Linked DNA regions of Homo sapiens: region 2 is linked to region 1. Evidence: fine-mapped expression QTL. A gene starts in region 1. The other region holds a variant in brackets. All regions are shown on one strand. Distances are from middle to middle. Region 1 holds the start of GFRA1 (GDNF family receptor alpha 1). Region 2 overlaps GFRA1 (GDNF family receptor alpha 1).

Evidence for each region. PIP is the estimated chance that this variant, and not a neighbour inherited with it, causes the effect.
Region 2: its variant is the best candidate, but not a certain one, in a credible set for the expression of GFRA1 in nucleus accumbens (GTEx, PIP 0.90).

What each region holds. Positions count from the first base shown.
Region 1 is chr10:116,270,913-116,275,417 of GRCh38, forward strand. It overlaps GFRA1 (GDNF family receptor alpha 1), which reads right to left and starts at 2,294. Exons shown (of 11, transcript NM_005264.8): 1 at 2,251-2,294; 2 at 1,078-1,363; 3 at 1-203. The coding sequence starts at 1,117. It overlaps LOC107984273 (a long non-coding RNA gene), which reads left to right and starts at 3,097. Exons shown (of 2, transcript XR_001747598.2): 1 at 3,097-4,505. RefSeq lists an enhancer at 2,459-3,296 and a silencer at 2,505-2,799.
Region 2 is chr10:116,168,131-116,172,130 of GRCh38, forward strand. All of the region lies in intron 5 of GFRA1 (GDNF family receptor alpha 1), which reads right to left. Among named protein-coding and RNA genes, the nearest start is that of SNORD158, 25 kb to the right of the region's middle. The variant T/C (reference allele first, on the strand shown) is at 2,062.

The DNA.
Region 1 (4,505 bases):
CTGCTTCAGGGCCTCCATGGCGCTGCGGCACTCATCCTTGGCCTCCAGGCCGGATGCCAGGCTGAAGTTGGTCTCCTTGCCCGCCACGCACTGCCTTAGCGTGCGGTACTTGGTGCTGCAGCTCTGCTCCTTCAGGCACTGATCACTGGCTTTCACGCAATCCAGGCGGTCTCCGCCGCTCACTTCGGCCGACAGGAGCAAGTCTGCGGGGCAGAGGGGAGGGAGCCTGAGTGCGGCGGGCGGGGACCCCGGCCGCCCCTGCTCCGGGCGAGGGCGCGCGCCCGGGTCAGGGATGCTTGACCAGCCTTCGGGGGCGCCCTGCTCTGGGAGCGGGTCCACCTCTCGACCATCCGGGAGTCCATTTTCCCGCCCCCTGGAATTCCAGCTCCTCTCTCCTCCTCCCGGGCCCGCAAGGAAGAGTGGCGCAGGCTCAGCCCGCGGGCTTCAAGGGTTTGCTCCAGAGCCTGCGCTGCCCACCGCGCACGTCGGCCCTCCGCCCCGGGGCATCCTGGCCTGAGCAACGACCCGGGCTCCCGGGCCACCCCCGGCTCCAGCCACCCGCTCCGCCCGGCTGAAACTCAGGCGCTTTCCGAGGAGAAGTGCGGCGGCGGACTGGGCACCGGGCGCGCGCTGGGCGCGGGGCAGGCCAGCCATGGTCAGCGGTCCGCCGGGCGGAGAGTGCCCAGAAGCTACTCGGGAAAAACTTTTCTCTTCCAAGTTTGCTCTCCCGGCCCCAATGCTCCCCAACTCCACCTGCCCGCCGCGGCTCCGCGAGCTCCCAGAGACTCTCTGGGGGTGCAGGGCCCTGGGCTGGAGGGCTTCTTAGTCCCCCGCCAAGTTGGGTCATTAAAAACCACAGGAAATCAAAACCAAGCCCGAAAAGCTTCAGGCAGCGCCGCGCCGCCACCGCCTCCCTAACCCGGGGATTCGCGATCCCATTCCCCAAAAAGACACTTCTTCCTTCCACATCCACCACACCCGCGCCCCAATTTTGGTGCGGAGGGCGGGGTGGGCTGCTGCAAGCGACCCTAGGAAAGACTCAGAGGGTAAGAAAGCCCGCGGCGGGCCTCGACTTACCCAAGAGCGGCAGCGCGAAGTACAGGGTCGCCAGGAACATGGTGCCGGCGCGGGGCTGGTCCCCGCCCCCCCAAAAAAATCCCGAGCCGCCGCTGGGTCTTGCCGAGGGAGCTCAGCGTGCAGCGATCCCCGGACAGCTGTGCTGCTCTGGCCGCCCAAAGTTCAGCTCCATCCAGTGAAAGAGGAAACTCCGGGTCTGGCAGCAGCCACCGCCGCCGGCGACTCAGCTCCGGGATGGCGAGGGCGGGAGGCGGTTCCGCTTTTAGGGGTTCAGGTCCGACCCAACCTGGAAGGGAGGGCGCGCTTTGAGATGAGAGCGGAGAGCGCCGGAGACTCCCCCCACAGAACCCTCTCCCCTCCCCCGTTCCCGCCTTTGGGGAATTTCCAACACCGGGGTGAGGACCCACCCCCACCCAGGTCGGGGTGCATGTGCGTGTTTTCCAGGGGCCGCTGACACGGGGATGGAGGTGAGGGCTGGAGAGGTCTGAAGAGGGTTCCTAAAGTCCAAGGGGGTGTCTGTTGGGTTCAACCCGAGACGCTGAACGCAAGCAAATAAATAAATAAACGGTACTTTCCGAGCGTCGCGAGCGGAGCCTGCAGCTGCCTGGAGTCCGAGCCCTCGGTGGCGGCGGCGGCAGCTCCCTAGCCAGCCCTGGCGCCGAAAGAGCCCCTTCTCCCGGGAAGTTGGCCTCCCCCTCCTCGCGTCAGCCAGCGAGCTCGCTCAGCCGCCGGCCCTCCCCACTCCGATCGCCAATCCCTAGCCCCAGTCGCCGCCCTCCTTCTCCCCGGGACTCGTCTCCCTCCAGAGGCCGCCAAGCCAGGGGGAACCGATGTCCCGACTGGGGCTGAAACCCGGTTCCTGCGCCCCTACCCCCTACCCGCCGCGCGTCCTCGGCTCCCTCCTGGGCGTCCGCTCCTCTCACACTCTCGCCCGGTGCCCAGGACTCGGGCGCTTCCGCACCCCAGCCCAGGGCGAGCGCGCCGGCCCGCAGTCCCGGCGTGCCCCGGCAGGTGCAGCCCGGCGCCACGAGCGCCCCCCGGGCCCTAAAGTTGGGAGACGCCAGCAAAAAGAAAGGGGTGGCCGGAGGAGGGGGGAAGAAGGAGTGGGGAAGAGGGACGGGAAGCGGCAATGGGTTCCCAAACAGAACGAAAAAAACTCCAAATGCCACCAACCTGGACTCAACCGACCGCGTCCAGCTGCGGCGAGGAGCCAGTTTGTTTATTTACTTATTTATTCTTTCAGGGCAATGGTGTCCCCGCCCCCTCCTTCCCTTTCCGGGCTCACTTTATCTGCGCTAGGAAAAGAAAAAAAAGAAAAAAAAATAGATGCGGTAATCTTCGAGAGCTCGAAGGGCCGAGTTGGGCCAGGACGATTTCCGAGCAGAGCCCTCGGCTCGGATGCTCGTTAGGGATGTTAGTGGTTATTGGAAGCGGCGCGGAGAATGGCGTGTTCCGAGGCCAGATTTCTTCTGGCCAGAGGACCCTCGGCCTGCTCCTGTTCCCGCCGCTCCGCAGCTCCAGCTCCCTCCTAAGCTCGCCCGCCAGGCAGCCGCAGCTGCACACGCCCGCTTGCGGTGGGACCCGCGGCCGGACCCGTACTCGCGCACAGGACACGCAGTGTTCTGCAGCCGGCCGCGGGTGCTGCCAGACACACACACTCTCTCTCTCTCTCTCTCTCTCTGTCTCTCTCTCTCTCTCTCTCTCTCACACACACACACAGACACACACACACACATACACGGGCACAAGGGCTCTTTCTTCTTAGGGCAATCGAGCCAGACCCTTCTTCGGAACACAAAGTTTTCCCCCACGTCACTAGTGGCTGTGATTCAAGACTTGGTGCTTTCAAGACACACTCAGACCCAGGACGCTGGAGCGGCGATCCTGGGATGCGCCCATCCGTTCGTCCACGCCAGCGCGTGCACACTCACACTCACACGCACACATGCACACGCAGTCTCTACCTCTCTCCTGGAGCTCCGACAAGGAGACAAAAGCGGAGCCCCCAGCCCACTGCATTTAAACCCGGCCAGACCTGGCTTTAGAAAATTTATAAGCTGACCTCCATTTTGGCTGTTTCGAGAGTAAATTAACAACAACAAAAAAAGCCTAACATGTACACAGCCCTTCGCCCCAACCCCTGGGACCGCTGGTTCCCAGTCGTGCTGCTCACCCCCCGCCCCCCACGCCTGACACACGCTCCCCTTCCCGCACGCCGGGGGGCGCCCGGGGCACCGAAGTCTACACTGGGTCGGGAGACCGGTCTAGGAGCCAGCCGGCAGTGCTCGGGATCTTTGCTGATGTCCAAGTTCATCTCTCGGGGAGACCGAGTTTGAATCAAATCTGCGTGCGCCCAGCTGTCAAATCTGCAAACCTATCACGCCAGACAATGGGCCGCCGCGGAGGACAGACAAGAATGGCTCATTTTGATCGAGGGGGGTAAATTGAAAAGGGCACGGGCTTTGGTTGAAGTTTGAGGCCCGGGTGTCAGGGCGGGGAGAAGAAGAGGAGGAAGGAGGAGGGTTGGGCCGCTCTCCATTCAACCACACATCAGCCAGGCGCGCCCCTCGGCTGCAGCGGCTGCTTGCAGGCGGGCTGCATATTGTGTGGAGTCGCCAAAGAGGGTCTGCGCCTCGGGGCGCGCCCCAAACCCGGGGGACATCCTACGGATCCGCACTTCTCTTGTGCTGTACGCGTGTTCCTCCAGGGTAAGTATGAGGAGACGGACGCCCTCATCAGACACCCCTCCTCCAACACACACACACCCATAGCCACATCATTCAGGGATACTCTAGTTCAGTGTATCAGTTTACACTTGGTTGTTGAGTAAACAAAGCAAACATATGTCACATTTTCGCGACAGATGGTTCAAACCAAGGGCTACTTAAGTTCTCTCTCTCTAACAGTCTAAGTTACAGGCTGAACTAAGCAGAAATGTAATTAAGTCATCTGATCAGTTTCTTCGACTTAAAATGTTTTCCCATATTTTCACAAACAAGCCAGATAAATCCTGGGGATGTGGTTTCAAGGAAAGGAGGGCTGAATATGAACTAAGACTTTGTGTGAAGACTCCGTTTCTCCCCGGTCACCCCAAACAGAAAATCCTCTTTCATTGTTCCATTTCGTAAGTGGAGGAGAATGTCTTCTTTTGGAAAATCAGTAATTGGAATTTCAATTTTCAATAGAGGGACTAGTGCTTACCGGTGCTGATTACTTGGGATAGTTGGATTACAATGAGGTTTAAGACATCATCCACATCTTTTGTAAATGTTCTTTGTTTAGAAATGACTTCATGTTACCCTATATATTCCACGGAATTCTTTTGAATCAAATTTTAACAGGGTGGGGGAAGGGTGAACTAAAAGCTCTCCCAGTGTAGAATATGGGACTTCTTTTTAAAATACAGATGATCTCCAACTTATGATGCT
Region 2 (4,000 bases), 100 kb before region 1:
CAAAAACCAGGGAATTTTTTTTTTTTTTTTTAGGTCAGACAGGCAAGTGTGATTGTCATTCAACAATCATTTATTGAGGACCTGCTAAGTACAAGGCACTGCTCTAGGTTCTTGGAATAGGGCAGTGAATAACACAGACAAAGCAGAAATGTCTGCCTTCCTGGGGTTTGCCTTCTGAAAGAGCTGCCCTCTCCCGCTACCATGTTATCATTAAGATAGGGTTCAAAAGAGGATTGAGCAAGGCAGGGAAAAATCAGCTCCTGAAGTTTCCCATGTGATCAAAACAGAGTTTCCATAGCATGTGTAAACCAGTTCCCATGCTGGGTGGCCCTGGCCCAGAGTCCTTCTGGGTCAGCTATTTCCTTCTGCAACTGTCTACCTACTGTTGTGTCACTCTGCAGGCCTGGGCTCACTCCACTTGCTCATCAGGCCACAGGAGGAAGTATCATGCTGGTCTGTTGAATTAAATGCTCAAGTTCCCTTCAGGTGGATCATGGCCAGTGGAGAGGAAGGGCCAACCTCGGGGGGTTAACAAGAAATTCTTTTAGGGCCCCCACAGAGCTTCCCCTTCCCACCGTCTGTCCAGCAGAGGCCATGGGCTCTGCTGAATATCTCATATATATTGTCTGCTGCTATGGTTGTTTTATTCATCATTAGTTTTATTTGATCCAACTGTTTCTTGAAGCCATCCACATCCAGCATGCAGATTATACTCGTATCAGATTTTCTTTCAAATATAAAACCCACAATGAACTCTGCTATGTAAACAATTTCTCAGTACTTCAGATAACTTTAATAGCTTCTCTTTGAAAACAAAACCCTTAGTGATATTTAGACATGGGTTCCAGACAGGGCAGTTAATTAAGTATACCTTGCCCCTGGGAAGTTTCTCTGCAGCAAGGGCAGTGGGCTGGGCCCCATCCCCTCTGTCACCTCCCACTGATTTCCCTCATCACCCCTGAATGCTGCCTCCAACTCCAGGACACAGGACTAACTCCAGGGTCACTTGTCAAGAGGGACCACTGTCTTTATGGGACAAGAATCTGACAAACTCATCCAGTGCCCCTGAGAACATCAAGATCCCCTGACTTGATGACTAGAGTTCACTTTTTGCCTTCCAAAGGCTATGCTAGATCTTAAATGTTAAAACATAAACTAAAAAGTACCTTCCCCAAAAGCTGATCCTAATCATTTTGATATGGACAGGAGGCAGGGAAATACTAGGTAGAAGATGGTGGGGTCCCTGGCGAGGGCTCCACCCTCAAGCTGGACCTGCGGACCTAAACGAAAACTTCACATCCCTGTTTTCCCGCCCGAATGTTGCCTTTTGGCCTACCATGGCCCATATCCTGTGCTCATAAAAATCCAAAGCTCCACTGGCAGAGGAGCAGAGCGCTGTGGCAGAAAAGGAGAGAAGAGAAGAAGTGTCCAAACATCAAGAGGAGAAGAGGCAGCTGGATGTCAGAGACTACGGTCACAGAATTTGGCCAAGGTCAGTTGGAGAAGAGTTCAGTCCCCAGCTGAACTCCAGGGAAGATTATCTTCCCACTCCATCCCCTTTCCAGCTCCACATCCCACTGAAAGCCACTTCCACCACTCAATAAAATCTCCACATTCACCATCCTTCAAGTCCATGTGACCTCATTCCTCTTGGGCACTAGACAAGGACCCAGGTGCGGGTGCAAGAAGCTGTCACAGTGACCCTCCACTGAGCTGTGTAACACTTAGCCATCCACAGACAGCACATACTAAAAGAGCACTGATTGTAACACACACCCTCTGGGGCTCCAGAGGTTGCTGGCAACCCCTAGACATTGCTGTGGGCTGGTATGGGGGTTTGTTCCTGCCAGTGCCCAAAGGCACTCGCCCCAGCTCCTGCACCCACTCACATGCATGCACCACCCACCATAAGGGGTTTGAGCACGTGGAAGCAGCTGAGCAAAGGAGCCACCCCTGCTGCAAGTCCCACCAGAGGGTAAAGGGAACTCTCCTGTCTCAATTGCTAATCAAAGGCCTCCATGAGCAACATGGAAGTATAGGACAGGAAGAGACTCACCACCA[T/C]GGTTATCTGCTATGTGATGCTGAGCCTGTCTTGATAGGAATTCCACTAAAAGGACAAATCCAAGGAGAATTCTTAACATGTTTTAAGCATCTACTAGGTGTGTGTCATTGAAAAGGAAGTGGGGCAATGAACTCCATTCTCTCTCTGGGTTACACTACTCACAAATGTCTTCTCTTTACTTTCAAGTTCTCTATTGAGATAATTCATGTAAAATGCCTGTAATATGACCAGGTATCATACCTAGTCAACAGATGGTGTTTCAATTTGCTCTTCTAAATTTCTGTGTTTTGGACCAAACCAAAGGAAACCTGTACCCTATTTGTTACTAAGTAATGGAGCAGAAGTCTCTTTGGACTCCATTTTCCCCTCTAAGCATTTAAAATACAGGCTCCCTACCCCATGACTTTTCATGGAAATTTATTCACATTCATTAAGGCTTTGGGAATTTTGAATTAAAAACTCAGGGAAGCTCAGATTCAATTCTCCAATAAGCCTCCGCTTTTTTCAACCCGGTCTTAATAAATCAAATAAAATAACCCACACTGTTTATGTAAATGTAAACCTATTGGTTCATAAAAGTGGGCTCAGATAAGCAAGAAAACCCCAAGAGTTTAGACCAGACAAAGAACTTCCCCTAAAAGCTTATCTGTTCTCCAGGGGCCTTGACTTCAACAGCTGCTGTAACCTCCTGTCTAAAAATCCTGGTAGAATGCATTTGGAATTTTCAATATTCACAGGACACATCATCCTTTTGCTAACACATCCCAGCCAGGTCTCCAAAGTCACCCTCACAGTATTTGCAGGCTAATCTTTCTACGTTTACTTATAAAAGCTGTCAATTAGGAAAACCTCTCTCCCTGACAGTCAGGAACTGCATCCTATTTTCATGTACATAGACACACAATGAATCACAGGCTTTACTAATCCTTTAAGAGTGTTAGAGGTCCCAGGGGACTGTTAGAATGAAAGCAAAACCTGCCCTGGATTATGCTATTTCCGACTAATCCTAGGAAAATGAATGTTAATTTATCATGAAAAAGGGTTAATTATGCATTTATTTCCGACGTAGGTACATGAGATCAGGCTCAGAAATAATACGGAGTATAATTCTCTTTTAAATGAGGATTCCATTTTAAGCATTTTTATCAAACAGACGCTAAACTCGGAGCAACTGTACCAAAGAAAAAGAGTAGCTTGGTAATGACAAGACCCAACTATAATTTTAATTAACCTTCTGATCCGGCTTAAATATATTTTGCCTTGTAAAAATCTGTAATAACATCTATTTCAATCTCCTCTGCTATTAGTTATTAAATTGAAAATGGATGCCTAGACTGATTTGGCAAAGATATTCAAGAAATTTTTCTTTATTCTCTCTGGTTTATTAAAGTAATAATTTGTAGCATAAAATTTCTCTGATTAAGTAATTTCGTGTAATTAAATCACCAGATTTATTAGGCTTCCTGAAACAGCACATACACAGCTGGAATGATGGTGACTGTTAGCCGCTGCTGAGACAGAAGCACATGTTGGCAGCGGCTTTCCTTGAATTTTCCTTCTGCTCAGATCAAGGAGTCATCGGTTTCACCTGCCATCTCCCATGGTCTCTGAGGTTCTGAAGGCTACTACCTACTGAGTCACTCCTGCTCACAATTAAAGAGGAGTCCTCATGAGAGGTCACTCTGCTGGTATCAGTGTGGTATCAGCAGAGGGAGGCGCAGCAAAGGAACTCTGTTTAGCCCCGATACAATCATTGCATGCCCAGCTTGGTGGTTTTTCTTCTTCCCTGTCCTGTAATCACTCAGATCCCCAAAGCTCCATTCTGAATGCTTCCCTTGTCCCTAGAATACACGTCAAGTCCTTCCACGGTGTTTACCCTCAGCCCTGAGAACTCTTCAGAAGATGAGACCCGGTTAAATGTTCCCAATTCTATCATCT